2 linked regions of the Homo sapiens genome follow. The protein of the gene in region 2 binds, or shares a complex with, the protein of the main gene of each other region. Each region holds a gene or a part of one and is shown on either strand. Other genes may lie near its edges. The genes, in order: TIMP2 and MMP2.

Region 1 (11,542 bases), on a different chromosome or scaffold from region 2:
AGGCTCTGAGGCTGGCACTGTCCTCAGATCCCAGATAGGGAGAAACGTGTGTTGTCCAGAGAGCTCCTTCCAGCACCTGCCATACCTCCAGGCTGTGCACAGCTCTCCCTGCTCTTCCAGTCCCCCTGCCTTGGGAGCTGCCAGTAATTCAGGGGTCAGTGACTCCCCTGACAGATCCTGTCCCTCCAAGGACGCTGTTCAAAACCAAGCCGAAGAGCCTCAGTTCTCCCCACAGCTCCCTCCTCAACCTACCATGGGGCCTTCTATCCTCACATCTTGCAAATGCATTTCACATTGTCACATGATTACTCCTGAATTTTGGTTATTTCGAAAGTTTATCTGTTGTTAATTATTTACCGAAACCACACTGAGTGGACTGACTTTATACCACACCTGGGCAGTTGAGGAGGGGAGGCCTGCTCACCACGCCGGGCAGCAGGAACCCCCTTCCACACCGCCTGGTGCCAAGATGTACCACCCCCTGCATCCCCCACCACAGGGACAATGTCTTGCTTCTCCCTTACATCCCCGGGGGCAGAGGCAGCCACTCCATAATTGCTTGTTGAAACACAGACAAGCCCAATATGAAAATCAAGATGAACAAAACTGACAATACAGATCGATCACATACTTCGCACAACGAGTTGCCAACAGTTTCTTTAAAAAGCGCCACGCCGCCCCCTCGCATGGAAGGCCTGACCCAGCTCACATGAATCTGATGCTGTGTTGCTTTTCCTGAGCACGTGTCCTGAAGACAGAGCCATTTTTGACTGCGTGCTGTGTGTTTTCTGGGGTGGCCCCTACTATCTGTCTGGTCCCTGTCACTGTGTCCCCCAGGAACCAGGTCACCCTTGGCTGTTCACCCCAGAAAATAGCAGTTGTTCCCCCTCTTGGTTGTGGACCCCTCTCTAGCTGGAGCTGGAGCTCCTCGGGGGATTTGCAGAGGACAGTTTCTGGAGGTGGGAACATGTGAGGAAGATGTCATCGCAGAGGTCTTCTAGGATAATGTGTGGCCTTAGGTACTGCCACCCAAGCCAGAGGAGAGGTTTTATTCTCTGCATCCAGAGAGCTCCTGGCTTTACCCTTGAGTCCAGAAACGGGCCCAAGCAGCCCGAGTCTGCCAAGTAGCTCAGCTGGCTAAGTGGCTCCAGGCATGGGACTGCCTGAATGGTGAGCCCAAAGCTAATTTCCAGCCAGATCCCTGTAGCTGTGCAGGCTGGCAGTAGATGTGAAGGATTTCACTGGGTGAGAGGGAGCCGGGCCAGCAGCGCATTTGAACAGTACTGTAACTGAGACACAAAATGCTTCCCGTTTGTGCTGGCCTTGCTGGAAAGGACAAGGACCTGGGGCCTTCCAGGAAGAAATCAGGTCACCTCTTACCATCCCTTATCCTAAACATCACCACCTCATCATGAATTATCTTTGCCGACCACAGTTCCGGTCCTACCAACTGCAAGAGCTGCTAGGGAGATACCTCCCAGAAATCCTCAGCCGGGCAGACAGAAATCTGACTGTTTCTTAAGCCAATTGCCTCTTGTAGACACCAAGCCATTTAACAAGGCTGCATGCAGCCAAGAGTAAAAGGAGCCAGCTTGCCACATAACAAGCCAGCCTTTATTAACCTCCACTGTACCCCCTTTCTGAGACCCCTGGGTCACAGCCCTGGTTAAATCACCTGTGGGCCTTTTAAAACTGCAAAAGCCGAAGTCTGAGCAAGACCCTCTGTATCTGCAAAGGGACCTAGACCTGAGCAATCTTTAAGAATCTTCCAGGCAATTCTGCTCTGAGCCAGAATGGGGAACCATTGCTGAGAAAGTCACAAACCTGCATCGCTTCGAGGAGAATCGAACACTGGAGAATAGACAGGCCGCTGTCGTCCCTGTGGGATTTGTTCCGGGACCCTACCCTGGGATGTCCTGGGTTGTTTATCCCAAGTTGGTTGAGCACGGAAAGGGTGACTGGGAATAAGAGAAGGCAGCCTGGTGTATGGGCTGAATTACGTCCCCCCTCAAATGCACATCTAGTCAGATCCTATGAATATGACCTTATTTGGAAATAGAGTATTTGTTGATCTATCAAGATGAAGTCATACTGGATTAGGGTGGGCCCTAAATCCAATGGCTGCTGTCCTTAGAAGAACAGGGCAATTTGGCCGGGCGCGGTGGCTCACGCCTATAATCCCAGCACTTTGGGAGGCTGAGGCAGGCGGATCACCTGAGGCCAGGAGTTCGAGACCAGCCTGGCCAACATGGCGAATTCCTGTCTCTACTAAAAATACAAAAAATTAGCCGGGTGTGGTGGCAGGTGCCTGTAACCCCAGCTACTTGGGAGGCTGAGGCAGGAGAATTGCTCGAACCCAGGAGGCGGAGGCTGCAGCGAGCCGAGATTGCGCCATTGCACTCCAGCCTGCTCTCCAAAAAAAAAGAACAGGGAAATTTGGACACAGAGACACACGAGAGAAGGCCATGTGAAGACAGGCGGAAATGGAAGTGATGTGTTCCTTGAAAATGGAACCAAGCAACATCAAGGAGAGAGGCCTGGAAGAGATTCTCCCTCACAGCCCCCAGAAGGAACTGGCTCTGTGGACACCTTTTCAGACTTCTGGCCTCCTGAGCTACAGAGAATCGATTCCTGTTCTTTTAAGCCCTCCCATTTGTGGTAGTTTGTCACAGCGGCCACAGGAAGCGAATGCCCTGAGCTCTGCAGTGCAACTCTGGCATCTGACTGGGCCTCTGAGCCGGGATGGGGTGAAAAGTTTTAGCTACAGGATGATTTTGATGCAAAGATTTAGACACAAATGCCAGGCAACCCAGAAGAGGAGAGTGCTGCGCTGAGCATGAAGGAGGCGGGAGGCACGCACTGCAGCCCTCCACCCTCTGCCATCCTGGATCCACACCCCACGCAGAAACAGCTCCCAGCTCAGTGGCCGCCTTAACTTATGCCAAGCAAGGACAGAGTGGCTGCCTGGACATTCTCCCACACAGCTGAGGAGTGTGTGTGTGGGGCGGGGTGGGGGGGGGGGCGGGAGGGGGAGGGGTCCCAAGGCCCAACTCCTACAAATCCAACTCCCAGGTCCTTTTATCCACAGCCTCCTTCTGGGCCTTGGCTACATCCTGCCCCAGCACGTGCTGGTGAGCCAAGGAGCCTGGACAGGCCTGCACTCCTCGTGGACCCCCAGAGAAAGGCCCATTATGGCTCCCTCATCAAAGGAACCTCTCCTTCACCCACAAATCTTGCTGAGCACCAAGGCTAAACTGGAGAAAAGACCTCATTTCCCCCAAACTGGGTTTTGTGGAAACTGACACAGGCACACACCAAGCCTTCCGCCCAGGTGGCCTGAGCCACCTGAGACCTGTGATCTCAATAGATTGGTGCAACTGAAAACTTCCCCAGCTGGGCACGCAGCTCCTAGGGCTAACCGGGGTGGGGCAAGAAGCCGTGGGCGGGGTATGGGAAGGGCGTGGCTGACAGCAGGAGAAACAGAAAGTCCCACCTCCACTCTGGGCAGGTGAGGGGGCCCCCGCCTTGCTCCATCTGCCCTGGACAGGTCACTCGACTGAGACTCAGACATAAGAAGGAAGGAGGGCAGGGGGCTCCGAGACCACCTGCCGTGTAGCCAGACTTGCCCCAGGAAAACCATGCTGACCAGCACCAGGGCTGCAGAGGCTTGAGGTGCAGGACCAGGGTGGAAACTTCGAGCCAGCGGGTTCCTCCCATTTCTGCTGGTCCTCCCCCTCCATGGATCAGAACAAATAACTGGGCCCCTCCTGCCTCCCTCCATGGCGCCTGTCTTTTGGGGGCTAGGAGTCCGGAGGTCATGGGTATTTGCTGGGGAATCTGAGCAGCAGCACAGTCCCACGTGCCGGGTCCGGTCACCAAAGTCTCCAGCTTTTGTGGACGTCCCGAAAAAGCGGAACATTCGGGGGTCCCGGTCCCTGCCCAGCCAGTTTGCAGGGCCTCCTGGGCAGGGCGCAAGCAAGGAGCCACGCCAGGAGACGCCACCGGCTTTTTCACCTGCCCCTCTGGGCCTGTGGAACCTGCCTCGGGTAGGGCGGGCTTCCATCCCACCCTGGCTTGATCGGGGAGCCCCCAAATGGGGCTGGTGGGAGAAGCCCCAGCAGAGAAGCCCTTCCCCACCCAGCCCCAAGCCCAGAGAAGCCCAACTCCCACCTTATCTGCGAAAGTTTCTTCCTGGGGTCCCCAGTCCTCCAGCCCCCCGCCCCCACGCCGTGTCCCCCACGCTCCCCGCCCCCAGCGCTGGCATCCCAGGGCGCGCCGCCTGCCAAAAGCCAAACTGGCTCCCTTTCCTGGGGCTGGAGCTGCGGCGGAATTTCGGTGGAATTTTGAGGTTGAGACGCATCTCGGCAAAGAGAGGGAAAGAAAGGGAGAGGAGGGAGGGGGGAAAGAAAGTCGGCTCTGGGCGTCCACTTGCAGGATTCGAGAAGGCGCCGAGGGACCAGGAGGCGGGCGCTGGGGTCCCTCGGCCAGCGGCGGGCGGGCGGGGCGTCTGCGAACCCTCGGGGTCGCGGGGGAGGTGGGGCCCCGCGCGGGGGCTGGGGTCGCCGCTCCTTACCTACATCTGCATTGCAAAACGCCTGTTGCGGGTGCACCGGGGAGCAGCTGCAGGCGTCGGCCGGGCGAAGCAGCGTCGCCAGCAGCAGGAGGCCGAGCGCCAGCCGCAGGGTGCGGGCCGCGGCGCCCATGGCGGGCCGGGGGGCTGGGCGGGCGGGGGCCGCCGCTGGGGGGTCCGGGCGCTGCTCGCGGCGGCGGGCTGGGGGCGCGGGCGGGGGCTGAGCCGGGGCCGAGGCGGGCCCCTCCCGCGCGGCTCACCCTCCTCACCTGCCCCGCTCGGCCGCGCAAACTTTCTCTCCTCTTTGTCTCGGGGGCGCGAGGGGAGGGGCGCGGGGCGCAATTCGCCGGGCGGGGCGGCGGGGTGGGGGGCGGCGGGCGAGCGGCGCTGCGGTTCTCGGCGGCCGCGCTGCCTTCTACGGATGTGTTTGCTGCGGGCTTGGGCCGGGCCGCAGTTTTATTGCGCTCGGAGGATTTTCTGCTCCTCCTCCCGGTGGCTGGCGGCCAATGCAGGCTCTGGGCGCTCCCAGCAGCCCCCTCCTCCCCCTCCGCCCGCGCCTCCCCCCAGCCCGCGCTTTTGTTGTGCCCGGCCTGGCACGTCGGGGGCTTCCCGCACCACCTGGCGCCCGCGACCCGCACCCGCGCGGGGGTCCCCGGACGCCCCCAGCCCCCCGACCCCGGTCCCCGCTGCGTGGCCTTCTGCGCCCGGGGTCCCTGACTCAGCGCGGGGGACTCGCGCCCCGTTCTTCCAGGACACCAGGCGACCCACCCGCTACCCTTTCCCCTTCAGCTCGACTCTGGAGGGCTACGCTGCTCCGTCCCCCGCCACCCCGGGGTCCCTTCGAGCCCAGCCTCGGGGCGAGCCAAGGGGTGTCCTTTGGAGCAGGGGCCGTTCCCTGTCGCCACCTCCCCGTTTCTGTGGGCGGGTGGCCTATTGAGAAACTGACAGGATCCCTTTTTCAAATGGAGGCCTTAGAATTTTAAGTGCGCCTGGCCAGTTTAGTTGGGGGGTGGGGGGTGTGGTTACTGTGAACAAAACAGGATTTTATATAAACTGGCCATATTTTTGACCAGCCAACAAGAGACGGGGGTGGGCCCAGGCGCCCAGGAGCCAGTAGGATCGCAGCAGAGGCATTGGCTGGGTTCCGCTCACAGTTTCCTCTCTTAGTCCACAAATGTGGGAGCCGAAGGACTTTTCCCAAAACAGTTTTGTGTTCCAGGAAAGACCCAGGCATATGAAGGGATGAACATGTGTAGGGTGGTGAGGCGGGCTTCCTGGCTGTGAACCTGCCTGTGCCCGGCTGTGGGCACCCACCCTGTACATTTGGTGTGTGCCCCGTGGGGCTCCATGGACACTGCTGCACTCAGGTCAGCACTCCAGCCCTCAGGTCAGCATTCCAGAGTGTTTGCAGTCCAGCTAGGGAGAGGGAAGCCCAGGAAAATGACACAGGAAGAATCAGGGCGGGCACGGTGGCTTGCGCCTGTAATCCCAGCACTTTGGGAGGCCGAGACAGGAGGATCACTTGAGGCCAGGAGTTTGAGACCAGCCTGGCTAGCATTTAGTAGAGACAGTGAAACCCCGTCTCTACTAAAAATACAAAAAATTAGCCGGGCTTGGTGGTGGGCGCCTGTAGTCCCAGCTACTCGGGAGGCTGAGGCAGGAGAATGGCATGAACCCAGGAGGCGGAGCTTGCAGTGAGCCGAGATCATGCCACTGCACTCCAGCCTGGGGGACAGAGCGAGACTCCATCTCAAAAGAAAAAAAAAAAAAAAAAAAGCCCGGGTGCAGTGGCTCATGCCTGTAATCCCAGCACTTTGGGAGGCTGAGGTGGGCGAATCACGAGGTCAGGAGTTCGAGACCAGCCTGGCGGCTAACACGGTGAAACCCCGTCTCTATTAAAAACACAAGAAATTAGCCGGGCGTGGTGGCGCGCGCCTGTAGTCCCAGCTACTCAGGAGGCTGAGGCAGGAGAATCGCTTGAACCCGAGAGGCGGAGGTTGCAGTGAGCCGAGATTGCGCCACTGCACTCCAGCCTGGGCGACAGAGAAAGACTCTTGTTTTTTTTTGTTTTTTTTTTTTTTTTTTTTAAAAAGAATTGCCCACTAAATTGTGCGGTGCTGACTTGAGGTATGAAACTTTGGAAAATAGTGAAAGAATGGAAAAACAGCTTCTTTCTGTTTGTGTATGTTTTGTAACAGACAGTTCTGAGAAAAGTTAAATAAGCAATGCCGTTATTTTTAGCACCCTGACAAATCCAAAGTCACTTTTTTGGTTTTTGTTAGCGTGAAATAGAGTTGGGTCGTTCACAAAATGATGTTTGAAGCTAACGTTTAAAAGTACAGTTAATTCAGAAAATTGTTATGTGCTGGCTGCCTTCAGCCATTTCATCGTTTTCTTTCCTTCTTTTTGGTTACAGGGGGAACAAAATGCTGTTGAACTTGTGTTTCAATTTGTCAGTTCATGATAGAAACAGGTAGCATAGGGGCTCTCGGTCTTTTAGACAAGCTCTACATATAAGTGATCAGGTACATGTTAGGGTGATAAATACCTTAGAGCAGTTGTGGTGCTGACAGCCAAGGGGGTGGGGCCAATGTGGGATGTACCTGGGAGGAAAGGGGGGCCTGGGCTCCAGGGTTGGGGGGCGTGAGACTGGAACTTCCAACCCAAGGCCTCGCACCTGTATCCTGGACTGCCCTCCCCGAAGTCATCCCCACCAGCACACAAACAGGCTGGAATTGCTCCCAGGAAAAGTGAAGCAGAAATCTTGCCAGGTGCAGTGGCTCACGCTTGTAATCCCAACACTTTGGGAAACTAAGGTGGGAGGATCACTTGAGGCCAGGAGTTTGAGACCAGCCTGAGGAACATACTGAGACCCCATCTCTACAAAAAAAAAATTAGCTGGGCGTGATGGCTCACACTTGTAGTCCCAGCTACAGGGAAGCTGCGGTGGGAGGATCGCTTGAGCCTGGGGAAGTTGAGTCTGCAGTGAGCCGAGATCACACCACTGCACTCCAGCCTTGGTGACAGAGTGAGACCCTGTCTCAAAAAAAAAAAAAAAAATCTCTCCCCTCAATTCCCCCACCAGAGAGTACTCTACTTTTCTGTTCCCTCTACCATTATCTCCTCCAAACAGGTCTCTAAACCAGAAGTTTCCAGCTTTCTTTTCCTCCCTTTTCTCTTGGTTCTCTCTCTCTCCCTCCTCCCTCCATCCATCAACAAATACTCATTTGAGTATCTGCTGTAGCCTGGACACCGTCCTAAGAGTGAGACATTCAGCGTCTACAGAACAGAGGAACATCCCTGGAACAGCAGGTGGAAACACGCAAGGCCCCAAGGTTGGACGATGCTGGACCTGGTGGAGCCCATGGTGTGGCGAGGAGTGAGAGGAAGGAGGGCTGAGGCAGGAGGCCAGGAGCAGGGGCTGGGAGGGGACACGGCGGAGGGCAGCCAGGCTACCGGGAGGATGTGCATTTTGTTCTGAGTGAGGTGGGAGCCTTTGGAGGGTTCTGAGCAGAGGGGCAGGATCGGACGCATCCCCTGGAAGGATGGGACTCTGGTGGGTGGCCTGGGTGGGGGCAGGGAGCCCAGTGAAAGGGCAGGTGCTGGAGATGCAGAGACTCCAGAGTCACAAAACCCCTTTCTGGTGCAGTGCCGTGAATGGCTGACCTGCGGCTGCAAAGTCAGATGAAGAGGGGACTGAGGTCTGAGGGCCCAAATGACTCTCCCAAGGGCACAGCAGGGAGGGGAGAGGACAGTCCCAGCAGCCAGGCCTCCCTCGCAGCCCACAGCCCCCAGCTTGCTGACCCAGTCATCTCCCTGCTGCTTGGGGCCCTCAGGGTCTTGGCTCCTGAGCCAGCTTCTGTCTCATTAACCACCCTCCACCTTCTCTTCCAGTTAGGGTCCTCACACTTCAAAATCAAGGAAACTGAGGCCTCAGACCAGGAACCTACTGAAGACAGGGAGTAGACTGGAATCTGGCTCATGGCAGCACAAACCCACTTTTTCTTTCTTTTTTCTTTTTTTTCTTTGTTTGAGAGCCGGGGTCTCACTCTGTCACCCAGCCTGGAGTGCAGTGGCTTGATCTCAGCTCACTGCAACCTCTGCCTCCCGGGCTCCAGTGATCCTCCCACCTCAGCCTCCTTTGTAGCTGGGACCACAGGTATGCGCCACCACACCTGGCTATTTTTTGTATTTTTTGTAGAGACACAGCTTCTGCAAGCTGCTCCTTCTCCTTGTCCTTCTCTGTGCTTTGTGGCCAAGAGGGCTTGACCTTGCAAGCAAACTTGAACATGGGGAGGGGGCTGCCACCCATAAGGGAAGTGACAGGGTCCGCATGCCCCATGCCCAGGGCAAGAGAGGAAGGAGGAAGGCAGACCCCGGGCTGGGAGCTCCCTCCACTGCTTCACTGCTTTTTTTTTGAGACAGAGTTTTACTCTGTCTCCCGCTGGAGTGCAATGGCACCATCTCGGCTCACTGCAACCTCTGCCTCCTGAGCTCAAGCAATTCTCATGTCTCAGCCTCCTGAGTAGCTGGGATTACAGGTGCCCACCATCACACCCGGCTAATTTTTGTATTTTAAGTAGAGACAGGGTTTCACCATGTTGCCCAGGCTGGTCTGGAACTCCTGAGCTCAGGTGATCCGCCCGCCTCGGCCTCCCACAGTGCTGGGATTACAGGCGTGAGCCACCGCGCCCAACCCATGGCTTCACTCCTAACCAGCCCCCTTCACTTCTCATCTTGATATTGGTGGGTGGACTACCATAGGGACCATAAGCGACACCCAGCCCAGATGCAGCCTGGGGGACCCTGGCTTGGATCAGCTTAAGAGCAGAGGCTCTCAGCCTCTCAGGACAGACAGGAGCACGAGGGAGCCCTGTGAAGTATGGGGGTGATTTCAGGGCCCTCAGACCACGCTCCAGGGGCCACCGCTTCCCACGAGGAACATCGTCTTGCTCCCCCACCCCCTCAAAGAGACCTTCCTGGCAGAGAGCACAGCAGAGCTGTCAGGCGTGTGTGCACCCTCGCCTGAACACACCAGGCGAACACCTCCCAGGCTGGACCTGATGAATCCTGTCCGGGGCCGGAGGAAGTGCCAAGGCCTCCTCCCTGTCGCTCCCGTCTCAGGCCACCAGGCAGGACGCCCTCCCTGCTGCGCCGGGCTGGCGGGAGGATGCTGCTCTTCTCGGTGGCCTCGCCCTCCCAGTCTGGATGAGAGCCATCTTCCCCTGAGCAGGTCACGTTCTCTCTGTGGAGACAGCTTGAACGGACCCGAAGCCCCCACGTTCTTTCTGGCAGGTTCCTAGAGAGCCAGATGTTCTCATCCAGAGACAGCATGGACGTTGGCCCCACACACCCGGGAAATTGACCCCCTGCCGATGGCTGGAACTCCGGCCCTCAGGGGAGTGTCCAGGGCAGTCTCAGGGGCAGGGAGCCGGCAGCTGTAGAGGAAGGTGGGGACCGTGTCTGAGTCTGGCTGTCTGGGAGGTGACACTTCAGTCAGGTGACACGTGGCTGTCAAGAGTCTGAGGCCCGGCTGGATGGGCAGGCAGCCCATCTGTGCCTCCCCATCCAGCCGGGTCTCAGACTCTTGGTCACAATGGGCACCCAGCCCACGTGTCCGTCCCCAACATCCACTGGTGGGGCTGTTCACCACAGGACATCCTGAAGATGACAAGAAGGTGAGTCAAGAGTGATGGCTGGGCGTGGTGGCTCACGCCTGTAATCCTAACACTTTGGGAGGCCGAGGTGGGCAGATCACTTGAGGTCAGGAGTTTGAGACCAGCCTGGCCAACATGGTGACACCCCATCTTTACTAAAAATATAAAAATTAGCCGGAATTCACTTGAACCAGGGAGGCAGAGGTTGCAGTGAGCCAAGATCCTGCCACTGCACTCCAGCCTGGTCAACAGAGCAAGACTCAATCTCAAAAAAAAAAAATAGAGTGACTGGGACCCACTGTGCTTGAGACAAGATACACAGGCAGCATGAGCGGCTCATCGTGTTCTATGGTGGACGTGCTGAAGGGCATTTCAACATGGATTTCATTAGCCATCTTCTTTAGGGGCCGGGCTTCTCCGCCTTGGCACAGTTGACATTTGGGCCAGATCCCTCTTTGTGGGGGGCTGTCATGGGCACTGTAGGGTGTTCAGCACCATCCCTGGCCGGACCCACTGGATGCCAGCACCCTCTCCAATTGCAACCATCAAAAATGTCTCAAGACATTGCAAAACGGTCCTGGTTGGAAACCACTAACAAACCAATAAAAGTCTTTGGTCCTGAGCAAAGCAAGGTGCAGAGACATAGGAACAAACAGGTTCTATAGAGAACAAGAATGCAGATGGGAGAGTGAAGGTCCCCACAGCCTGGAGACCAAGACATGCACCATGCTGCCGACACCGATTGTCAGGGGAGAGAGGCCAGGCACAGAATAGAATTTTTTTTTTCTTTTTTGAGACAGAGTCTCGCTCTGTCGCCTAAGCTGGAGTACAGTGGCACAATCTTAGCTCACTGCAACCTCCACCTCCCGGGTTCAAGCAATTCTCCTGCCTCGCCTTCCAAGTAGCTGGTATTAGAGGTTCCCACCACCACGCCCGGCTAATTTTTGTGTTTTTAGTGGTGACGGGGTTTTACCATGCTGGTTGGGCTGATCTCGAACTCCTACCTCAAGTGATCTGCCTGCCTCGGCCTCCCTAAATGCTGGGCTTACAGGCATGAGCCACCGCACCTGGCCGAAAAAGATTTTTTATAAGTGTCCATGGTATGGACACAGTGTCTTGCACCTGTAATCTCAGAACTTTGGGAGGCTGAGGCAGGAGGATCACCTGACACCAGGAGTTTGAGACCAGCCTGGGCAACACAGTGAGACCCCATCTCGACAAAGAATTAAAGAAATTAGGTGGTCAAGGCCAGGTGCAGTGGCTCATGCCTGTAATCCCAGCACTTTGGGAGGCCAAGGAAGCTGGATCACTTGAG
Region 2 (10,767 bases):
CTTTTTACTGACATCACCCAAATCAGTCCTCTCTATAGCCCTGGGAGTGGGGTATCATGATTGCACCATTTCACAGGTGAGGAAACTGAGGCCCAGAAAAGTTGAGTGACTTGCCCAAGGATTCAAACCCAAAGCTCAGATTCTTATGCCCACAAGAGTCAGGGCGGTCAGGGGGCCGCTGGTGTGTCCAGAACTGACAGTATGGCACTTTTCATGATAAGCAATTATTTTAGAGATGAGGAAACTGAGTCCAAAGAGGTATAAAGACTTACACAATATCTTGCAGCTAGTGAAGGGCAGAGGCCACATTTGAACCCAGCACCCCTCACGGCAGACCTTGGGCTTTTTCCTGAGTCTAGCAGTCCCCAAACTTCATCACTCAAGCACCACTTTCACTATTTTGGCCTGGCTCAGATATCACCTGGACCATTAAATATTTTTTAAAAATGAACTGACTTTTTAAACTCTAGCCTCACTGTAAGAACCAACAATAAATAAATAAATAAATAAATAAATAAATAAATAAATAAATAAATAATTGGCTTAAGGCACTGGTTGTTCTGTTTCTACTACATACTAAAAATCAAAGCTTATTATGAAAACTAGAAACTTCCACCCCCGTATTGTTAAGGTCATTCCACATGATGGAAAATTCTGTCCTGTACTTGGCTATTCTCCTGGATTCTAAACTCCACTGGGTTGCTCAAACCTGTGTAACCTTGCACCAGGTGACCTTACTCACCTAGAAAATGGGAGAAACCCAGAAATGGAGCGCTAAGAGTGACATGGATATTAGCATTGTTCGGATAGGGAAGAGTTATCCAAGTATCCCCTTGGAGAGCTGCTCTGCCTTCCCAAGACCAGGTCAACACTCCCATTTCCTGCCCTCGTCTCCAGCACTCCTGGCTGGATGAGATCTTGCTGGTCCCACCCCCTGGGCCTCCATCCCAGGCTACATGACCTCCCCCCTCCTCACCCTCCACCCCCAACCCCCGCCCGGAGGTTTACCATAGAGCTCCTGAATGCCCTTGATGTCATCCTGGGACAGACGGAAGTTCTTGGTGTAGGTGTAAATGGGTGCCATCAGGGCCCCAGGGTCTTGGGAGTGCTCCAGCCCCATGGCGTGGCCAAACTCGTGGGCTGCCACGAGGAACAGGCTGTACCCTGAGGGTTGCAGGGAGGAGAGAGGGTTGAAAGACAGGAAGAGAGATGAGAGAGAAGTCAAGACCTGACCCAGTGATGCAGACTTTTGAGGACAGCCCCACAGTAAGGCTGAGAACCCTGGAAGCGGCATGTATTGATTTTTTTTTTCTTTTCCTGAGAATTCTGGGATCAATACACAATTTTGGGATTAGTGCCTATTGTTTCCAAGTGGGGTCAGCCAAAGTCTTCTTGTCTCTTTCCAAGTCAGTATCAGGACAGGTGTGCTATAAAGGAACAGAACAAGTAGTATCTGCGAATTTTCTACTTAAAACCCCATTCATTTTAAAATCCTGCTTCCTGGCTTTTTATGTCTCTCTATAAAAGATGAGCTCTACAAACCCAGCTCCTCAGCCTCTCTGAAGAGGTAAGAAGAGTGGGGATAGGCTGGCCCCATGTTGCCACCATTTCTGCCCAGGTGAAAGCAGTAAAAACCTTTCACACTTAGCGTGGTTGCACAGGCTGAGCCACAGCCAGCGAGCAAAACCTGTGTCACACCCTGTTGTGGTTAAATGCGTCCCCCCAGAAAAGATTTGCCCAAGTCTTAACCCTAGGGACCTGTGAATGTGAACTTATTTGGAAATAGGCAGGAGAATCACTTGAACCCAGGAGGCAGAGGTTGCAGTGAGCCGAGATCATGCCACTGCACTCCAGCTGGGCAAGAGCAAGACTCCGTCTCAAAAAAAAAAAAAAGGAGGAGAGGCAAGCAGAGGGGGAAGAAGGCCATCCATGTCATGACAGAGGCATAGACTGGAGTGACGCATCCTTCAGAGGGAACATGGCCTTACTGACGCCGTGATTTTAGACTTCCAGCCTCCAGAAGCATGAAAGAATACATGGGGTTTGTTTCAAGCCATCAGTTTGTGGCACTTTGTCATGGCAGCCCCAGGAGACTATAATATTCACCCTGGGTGAGCCACTGAGCTCTGGATACTTGAACCACTCAGGAAGGTGGAGAATCCCACCTTTAAGCTGGTAAAATCAGACTGTGTCCTAGCAAGGAATTTAGCAGGGGATAAGAAAACCTCCTTTGGCCAGCCTCTGTCCACTGACATCTGCCAAGTTCCATCTCATGATGATTAAAAAGAATGAAAGCAACATAAAGACAGGCTTGCCTAATTCTGACAGGCCCTGGACCTGCCCACTGACCTGGCCATTATGGGCCATCAGGGAGCTTTAAGCAACCCTGCAACCCTGGGCTCTGTAGCCTAGATTGGGCACAGGGCCCCAAGCACCCTGCTCACTGCACTGAGCACATAGTAAGGTCACAAGCTGTCTCCTGGTCACTCTCTCCCCTGAGCTTGTGAGTCCTAGGGGGCAGAGAGCTGTCCCAGTCAGCTCCATCCTCAGCACCCAGGACTGACGAGGACCCACCATTTACACCCTGGTAACAGATGGTGCTGACTGATGGGGGAGAGAGGGCTCTGGGGGCTCCCCCAGGGCTGCGTGGACCATGGTGTCAGATCAAGCATGAGGCTCTTCCTTTTTTCCTTTCTTCTACTGCCTACCAGCTCCTTGAAGGCACCTCTTTGTGCAGTGGGAATGTCTCTTAGGAGAATTGTCTCTCTGGTAATCTGTGCTCAGAATTCAGCCAATTTTGGTAGTCACAAGCCCGCCTGGAGGGTGGCTGAAGGGGAAGACAAGAGCAGTGACCCCTCAGGAAGGCCAGTTCTTACCCAGGAGGTGAGTAGCAGCATCTGGTCTACCAGGGTCTGATTTTGGAGGCTGTGCCTCCACCTGGATGGGCAGGATCTAAGCAGGGACCTTGGCTCCACCAGAGATGGGCATTGTCTCAGCCCAGGTGGGCGGGTCTGGGTAGGTGGGTGTCTGGGGGGCAGTGTCTATGCTTGAAGTGGGTGAGGTCTCAGGAAGGTTTTTGGAGCAAGTTTAGGGGCAAGGGCAATGTCCAGGGTCTCTGTCCAATGACCAGGGCCTCGTACCTTGGTCAGGGCAGAAGCCCCACTTGCGGTCATCATCGTAGTTGGCTGTGGTCGCACACCACATCTTTCCGTCACTGCGGCCGGCGCTGGTGCAGCTCTCATATTTGTTGCCCAGGAAAGTGAAGGGGAAGACACAGGGGGCACCTTCTGAGTTCCCACCAACAGTGGACATGGCTGTGGGGTTAGGGATACGGGTCAAGGCGCAGCAAAGAGTCTGAGGCTACCACCAGGAAGCAATGACATGACGCTGACCTTAATGAACCACACCTAAGTTAGACTCAGTCCCAGGCACTGTATCTTTAGACTCATCTCACCCACCCCTGACAACAGCCTTGTGCAGGAGGGACTGAATAGCACCGCGTTTCATGGATGGGAAATAGATCAGAGAGATGATGAAATTTCCCTAAGCCAACACTGCTAGGAAGTATCAGAGCTGCAATTCAAACCCAGGAAGCCAGATTCCAGAGTTCTAATGAGCCTCCCATGGAAGGGGGCAGATGGGCTAGGGGCAAAGGGAGTTGGATGAAGCTGATGGCACCAGCACATGCCCCTCAGCTGTGAGCCCCCTTGGGCAGGGCTTTGCAGAGACCAACCTCTGTGTATGCTGCACAAAGCAGGCGCTCAGTAAATTCCTGTTGGAGGAAGGGAAGAAGGAAAGGAGGGAGGGATAGAGAGGAGGGCAGGAAGGAGACAGGGAGGAAAGCACGGAGCTCTTAATAAAAAACAGACTAAAAGGTGGAGATACAGACCAGGAAAGGCAGGGAAGAGAGATTGCAGGGTCAGAGAGGAGGAGAGAGAAGTCTCTGCCAGAGAGCCTGAGAGAAAAGGGATGCAGGTCGGTCAGAGGATCCTGAGCAGGCCTGACATTTAAGTGTCACCAATTCAACTGTTGATGCCCAATGTCTGTTCTGATTTCAGTGCCCAGGCCATACCAGGTGACAAGTATCCTGACTAGCTACACGGACATCTTGGTGTGGATGTCATTCGCACAGATGTCTTAGCACCCCTGTCTTGGGGAAAGGAGGTGGGCACTCGGAGTCTTATGGGTTTTTTTTTTGTCAGACAGCAGGTGCTGGGCCCTGAGGGAGGGAGAGGGAGTGGCACCCACCGGTCTCAGGGCAGAAGCCATACTTCTTGTCGCGGTCGTAGTCCTCAGTGGTGCCGCACCAGCGGTAGCCATCCGTGCGGCCCTCAGTGGTGCAGCTGTCATAGGATGTGCCCTGGAAGCGGAATGGAAACTTGCAGGGCTGTCCTTCAGCGTTGCCGCCCATGGTGAACAGGGCTAAGGGTGGGGGAGAGAGGGAAGGATGTGAATGAGACATGCTTCCATGGGCACAGGGCTGGCTGGCTGCCCACCTGCCGGTTCACACCAGTGAAGTTGATGCATTGTTAAAATATTAAGAAAACATCTCTACTGGTTGGTAAGGAGCTGCTTCTCTGAGCTCCCAGAGAGAACCCCTGCTTCCCTGGTTATCCCAATCCCTCCCGTGGGACCTTGTGGACCACCCAACAACAAAATGATTGACACCTGGCACACAGCAAGGGCTTCTAGAACCCTGCCTCAGCCCCAAGGGCACTGTCCATTCTGCCTGGTCCACACCTGTACCATGCAAATTTCATGTAATAATGATGTATGACATGAATATATCAGTCATGGCAGGCAGGACCACGAGAATCTCTCTCCATTTGATAGGTGGAGAAATCAAGGCTAGGACAAAGATGGTTCTCAAACTGCTCATGGTCACAGAAATGAAAGAAGTGAATGAAGGTTGTAACTAAAAACTACAAAACACACTAATCTCAATCTCTCTTGCTTAGTCTGTCACTCTCATATATGTGTGTGTGCGTGCACACGCATACACAGAAAGCTTGCTTTACCTCCTGTCAACCCCAGGCCCCTTCCTGGATGGCCTTGTTGCAGTCTCTGTAGGAAGGAGAGAAAGAATGAAGAGGAGGAGGGAGGGAGAGGGAGGTGGTGCCTTCAGGTCCCTTTTACTAAACACTCTGGGCTCCTACTTTGACATCTTCAAGACAGGGGCCATAAATGGAGAGTTGGGGGAGGGAGTGGGGTTCAGAGCCTGGCCTGTCTGTCTTGGATTCTCCCCATCCTCCCCTCATCCACCCAAAGCTAAAAAATGGTGTCTCTGGAATTGCCAACCAGCAAAACCACAAGTCCATAACAAGGACCATCTGTGCACAACGGCGCCAGAGGTGACCTCACCAGCCCCCGTTAACTCCACCATGGCCGGAATGGAGCCCAGTCCCTGGCCTCCCACCACAGAACTCGAGGCCCTGTATCCTCACCACTCCCCTCTCTACCAAAAGACCTTGTCCTGCAATGCCAGAAACAATGGCACCTAGAGAAAAGGCAAGACTGAGTCCAGATACCTTAGTGGCCTCAGAGTTGAGAAAGGCAAAGCGTTAACTTCGACCAATGCCAGCCCCCTGCCTCTGACCTCTCATTTCTACCACCCAGGAAGCCCCTGTCTCCTCCCAAATTCCCCTGACAAGGATGGCAAGAATCAGACACTGACTCAGCCATCAGCAGGGGCTGAGTAACAACAATCTCTGCCTCGAGACCCAGACACGTGCGTGTTGTGCGTACTTGCATCTGGCTAAGCACAAAGTAAATGGCTAATGTCCAATGCAGGGAATAACCCTTCCCAAATTTATGAAATACAGCTGTTTCCACATCTAACTATCACCAAAGCTTTCTGTTCCTATCAGAGGGGTGACACAGGGAAGGGTTAACGCCACATGTAATCCCTACCGGGAAACGCAAGATACAAAAAATATTTTTATTTCAAAATGTCTGACTTATTAATGGTGAATGGCTTAAACTCTTACTTAATATAAAGTTTAGCTCTGGTAGTAAAAGCATAAACAGGAAGGGAATTAACTAGCTCTTTGTTTCTTTCATTCTGTCAAGATGGTTGGTGCTTAGTTTTCAGTTACAGTGGGGTTAGGGAGATTCACAGACATAAAATTACAGACAAAAAGACAGTCTTTAGTCTATGTAGACTATAGAGTCTTTGTGACATGGGAAAGAAGATAGTGTTAAAAATTTTTAGACTTTTTTCCATTTTCGCCAGGTTTTCTGGGCTTTCAATCTGCAGAATTATCAAATATGATGACTTCATAGAGTATGAAGTTACATTGTCTTTTTGTGATTTATGACTATTAAGTGTGTCAAGGATATTTTTAAAAAGGATTGAGTGTGTATGTCAATATCTGTACCCCATTTTAAAAGATTTCCCCCATGTGGCTTCAAAATCTCTGAAATGTTGCATCTCAGGCACTGACAAGCACACAAACACAAATACTGAGTCAAGCCTAAAGTCTTTATCAAGACACAGAGATGCAGACACAAGCTAGACAGGAGGCAGAAAAAGACAGTGCCCAAGAGAGGCAGATAGTATAGCCCCCGTGCCCAGACACACACACACACACACACACACACACACACACACACACACAGGCACACACACACACACACACACACGCATTAGCAGAGGCAGCATCAGGACCAAGGCAGGAGCAATAGCTGAAATTCCTCAGTTGGAGTACGCAAACCAGGTTGAGTCCAGCCCTGGTCTGAGTCCTGCCTCCCTATCACACTGCTAGGTTTCCAGCTACCAGCAAGCCTTTCCTCATGCCCTTGAAGTATCAATCTTGACTGAAGTGTAAAGACTGGTTCTAGAGAGAACCACTGGGCATTGTAATAGTTCTAAGTTCACTCCAATATATATTAGAAATAAATAATTAGCAAATCAAATCTGTGACTTCCTAAATGATTGCTAATGGTGAAACTTAAAAAAAATCAACTTGATTTAATTAGAGTACTACGTTCATCATGGTACTGGTGGGAGAGAAACAGCAATGGCTCAGATCAGGATGGGGGGGAACTGAGTGAAGGACGTTGGAGGGATGCTCATTAACTGGCAGTGGCAGCCAGTCCTGGAGAGTGTGGAGGGAAGAGCACACTGGGGAGCCCGGGAAGCTGGAGGCTTGGGGTGGAAAGTCTTGGGGACTAGAGTGGATGCTCACCTTCATGGGGACAGAAGCCGTACTTGCCATCCTTCTCAAAGTTGTAGGTGGTGGAGCACCAGAGGAAGCCATCGCTGCGGCCGGTATCAGTGCAGCTGTTGTACTCCTTGCCATTGAACAAGAAGGGGAACTTGCAGTACTCCCCATCGGCGTTCCCATACTTCACACGGACCACTAAAGAGTGACATGGAAGGGGGAGGTTGGACTTCTCCAGGCCTTCTTTGGAGACCAAGATTCTGACTCACCCAGATGTGTGACTTTCCTCCCCTCCCACCTCTCTGGTCCAAGCAAATGGAGTGGAGAGAGGACAGGAGAGAAGGTCTGGGGCATGCAGAGGGCCCCTTTCTCACCTTGGCCTTCTCCCAAGGTCCATAGCTCATCGTCATCAAAATGGGAGTCTCCCCCAACACCAGTGCCTGGGGCGAAGGCATGAGCCAGGAGTCCGTCCTTACCGTCAAAGGGGTATCCATCGCCATGCTCTGAAACACACACTGGGTCTTAGCGTCTAGCTGTGCCACCTAGACCCTGAAACCCCTCCACACCCCATCTACATGTGGAGCCTGTCAGCCCACCCAGCATCTGTCCCCTTCCCTTGTCCCAGTGGGGTTATCCAGGACTGTCAACAGGAGCTCAGTAGAGATCTGCTGACCTGGTTGTTACCATCCTATGGTCTACACTGCTCTCCCAGGTTTACATGACTCCCAGTATCCATACCCTCTACCTCCATTGTCTACTCTACCACCATGACACTATATGTACCACATACCCACATTACCACACTAGTGTCCTCACCCCATCTTCATCATCCCCAGTGTCTATGCCATCCTCCATCCTGTCAATACTGCCCTCTTAACCACAATCCTGCCTTCATGTCACACTATCACCAATATCTGCAACATGAATCCTCATGCCCACCTTGTCACCAAGGCCTGTACCACCCACCCACTTGTCTACATTGTTTCCCCTGCTCTTTACCTTCATCACTTACCACTCAGTGTCTATACCACATACCTTTATGTCTGTGCTACTGGCAGTGTTCACACCATAAACTCACATGGCCACCTGGCCCCAGGTTCTACGACCCTTCCTCTAGTGTCTACACTGCTCCACTGTTTCCAAACCACTCTCATATATCTACAGTTCCTCAGTGTCTACCAGCATCATCCAACAGAGCTTTCTGTGATTAAGAGGAATATTCTTTGTCTGTGCTGTCCAAAATCAATAGTCACTAGCCTCCTGTGTCTTTTGAGCACTTAAAATGTGCCCAGTGTGACCAGGAAACTAATTTAAAATTTTTAACTAATTTAAATTTAAACAGCCATGTATATTCTGCCTAATGGCTGCCATATTGGACAGCACAGTAGACCACTTGCTTCGGGTTTAGACGGCCTCCAGGTTATACCACAACACACCATCTGCCCCCATGTCAACGTGGCTCTCCAGTGTCCACTCCGTGTTGTGCTGCCCCCATCTAAACCACCCCCAGGGCCCACACCATCTACTGTCCTATCTAAGCCGCCCTTAGGATCCCCACGCCCCTCTAATGTCCATCTCACCCCCTCGTCTCAACACTGATCCCTGCTGGCCCCTCTTCTGCCCCATCTTCTGCCTACCCCAGCGGCCAAAGTTGATCATGATGTCTGCCTCTCCATCATGGATTCGAGAAAACCGCAGTGGGGTCACATCGCTCCAGACTTGGAAGGCACGAGCAAAGGCATCATCCACTGTCTCTGGGTCCAGATCAGGTGTGTAGCCAATGATCCTGGAGGTGGTAGAACTGCATGTGAGTGTGTATGCATGTGCATAAGTGTATGTATATGCAAGTATGTGTGTGTGCACAGATGTATGAAAAAGTTTGAGTGTGTGTGTGTATGTGAACATACAAGTATATGCACAAGCACGGGAAGGGTGCACAGGTATGTGTATGTATATGTGAGCATGTGCCTGCGTGTATGTGTGTGTAGGCTGGGCAGGGCTCACTGCCAAGGACAACCCTCCCAGAATGCCTTGAAGACCCAGGGAGTCCCAGGCCAGCCAACATTTTTAGGCCCCAGCTCAGGAGTTCCATCTGTCACTTCTGGCTGGTGGGGGAGGGCCATAAGTAGTGCATTATGGGGCACAGGGCAAAGATCCCACCATTGGAACCCAGCACCACCCATACAGAGCACAGCTCTTGGCCCAATTAGCAACCAGTTATAACCCAATTGGGCTGCTAAACCCAATTAGCTACCAATCATCACGTTCCTTCTGCCCATCCCAATGACCTCATCTAAAAACAATAACAATGACTAGCATTACTACACTCTTGCTCTGTGTCAAAAATCATAGAAGCCGTTTGTATTAGTTCAGCCTAGCTTAGTTCCCCAACATACCATATAAGGGCATTTTTTAAGCCCCATTTTGTAGATTGGAAAGCCAACATTCACAGCACTGAAAAGTAACCCAATGTCTCATGGCCAGCAAGTATGAAACTCAAGTCTGTCTGACTTCATTTTCTAAGAACTGTGTATTGAAACTCCCTAAGATGTCAAGCCTTCACAAAAGACACCTCATGGATCCCCTGAGTGGAGAGAATGCATGGGTCAAGGAGACTCGTGTCCCTCAGCCCCATGGCCCTGCCTCCCCAAGCCCTGCCCCGGCACCTGTATGTGATCTGGTTCTTGTCCCACTTGGGCTTGCGAGGGAAGAAGTTGTAGTTGGCCACATCTGGGTTGCCGCAGCGTGGCTTCCGCATGGTCTCGATGGTATTCTGGTCAAGATCACCTGTCTGGGGCAGTCCAAAGAACTTCTGCATCTTCTTTAGTGTGTCCTTCAGCACAAACAGGTTGCAGCTCTCCTTGGGGCAGCCATAGAAGGTGTTCAGGTATTGCTGAAAGAAATGCACACCCCCAAGGCAATTAGCCACATTAGGATGGCACAGTACTGACCAAAGCAGGCTGTAGCAATCAGCCCCCCAACCCAGTGCCATAGTCCAGACAGGAAATAAGCCAGGGGTCCCAGAGCACTGGGTGGAGTACTGGGTTCCCAAACCAGCACGGTCACCCATTAGTTGAGCGACAGGACATACAGCTATAGAGAGCATGGCTACCACTTGTTGGTGCTGGGTGCTGACTATATGTCCAGGCACTAAAGTCAGAATATGTTAACTCATTTAATGCTCAAAACTCTGTAATGTAGATATACTAACCCTATTATACAGAGGAGGAAACTGAAGCACAGAGAGGTTAAGAAACTTGCTTACGATCACACAGTTCACAAATGGTAGATCTGGATTTGGGACAAAGCAATCTGGCTCCAGAGGCTGTGATATGGAATCATTATACTCCAGCATCCTTCCTTTACCTCTATCAACTCATTTATCTACCTTGCGGCTGGTGACTTGGGGACTTTTTTCCTCCTGTTTTCTTCTAAAGAGATTCAAGGACTATGTGCATGGGCTCTGGCAGTAGACAGACCTGGGTTTAAATCCTGAATCAGCCATTTGCAAAAAGAAAGTAGTCCTGTCCTTCATGAGTCATACAACTGGCCCTGCCCAAACTGAGGCCCAAACTGAGCAGGTCCCTGCAGAGGTTCAGGGAGC

What was found.
Region 1: the proteins of MMP2 (region 2) and TIMP2 are in contact, whole or in part, in a crystal structure (PDB 1GXD), measured with the Homo sapiens proteins. Residues at the interface, in NP_004521.1 of Homo sapiens: Trp574, Lys576, Asn577, Lys579, Tyr581, Phe588, Arg590, Lys595, Asp599, Phe602, Lys604, Ile606, Ala607, Asp608, Ala609, Trp610, Asn611, Ala612, Asp615, Tyr636, Leu638, Leu645, Lys646, Ser647, Val648, Lys649, Phe650, Gly651, Ser652; in NP_003246.1 of Homo sapiens: Ile162, Pro163, Cys164, Tyr165, Ile166, Pro169, Leu173, Met175, Val178, Thr179, Phe191, Arg196, Asp198, Ser200, Cys201, Ala202, Trp203, Tyr204, Arg205, Ala208, Lys211, Gln212, Glu213, Phe214, Leu215, Asp216, Glu218.

What each region holds. Positions count from the first base shown.
Region 1 is NC_000017.11:78,920,386-78,931,927, forward strand, and holds the start of TIMP2 (metalloproteinase inhibitor 2 precursor), read right to left. Parts: upstream 5,003-11,542; 5' UTR 4,704-5,002; coding exon 4,574-4,703; intron 1-4,573. UniProt on the Homo sapiens protein: Complexes with metalloproteinases (such as collagenases) and irreversibly inactivates them by binding to their catalytic zinc cofactor. Known to act on MMP-1, MMP-2, MMP-3, MMP-7, MMP-8, MMP-9, MMP-10, MMP-13, MMP-14, MMP-15, MMP-16 and MMP-19.
Region 2 is NC_000016.10:55,482,198-55,492,964, reverse strand, and holds part of MMP2 (72 kDa type IV collagenase isoform 1 preproprotein), read right to left. Parts: intron 10,057-10,767; coding exon 9,830-10,056; intron 8,950-9,829; coding exon 8,801-8,949; intron 7,667-8,800; coding exon 7,538-7,666; intron 7,362-7,537; coding exon 7,188-7,361; intron 4,423-7,187; coding exon 4,249-4,422; intron 3,315-4,248; coding exon 3,141-3,314; intron 1,165-3,140; coding exon 1,009-1,164; intron 1-1,008.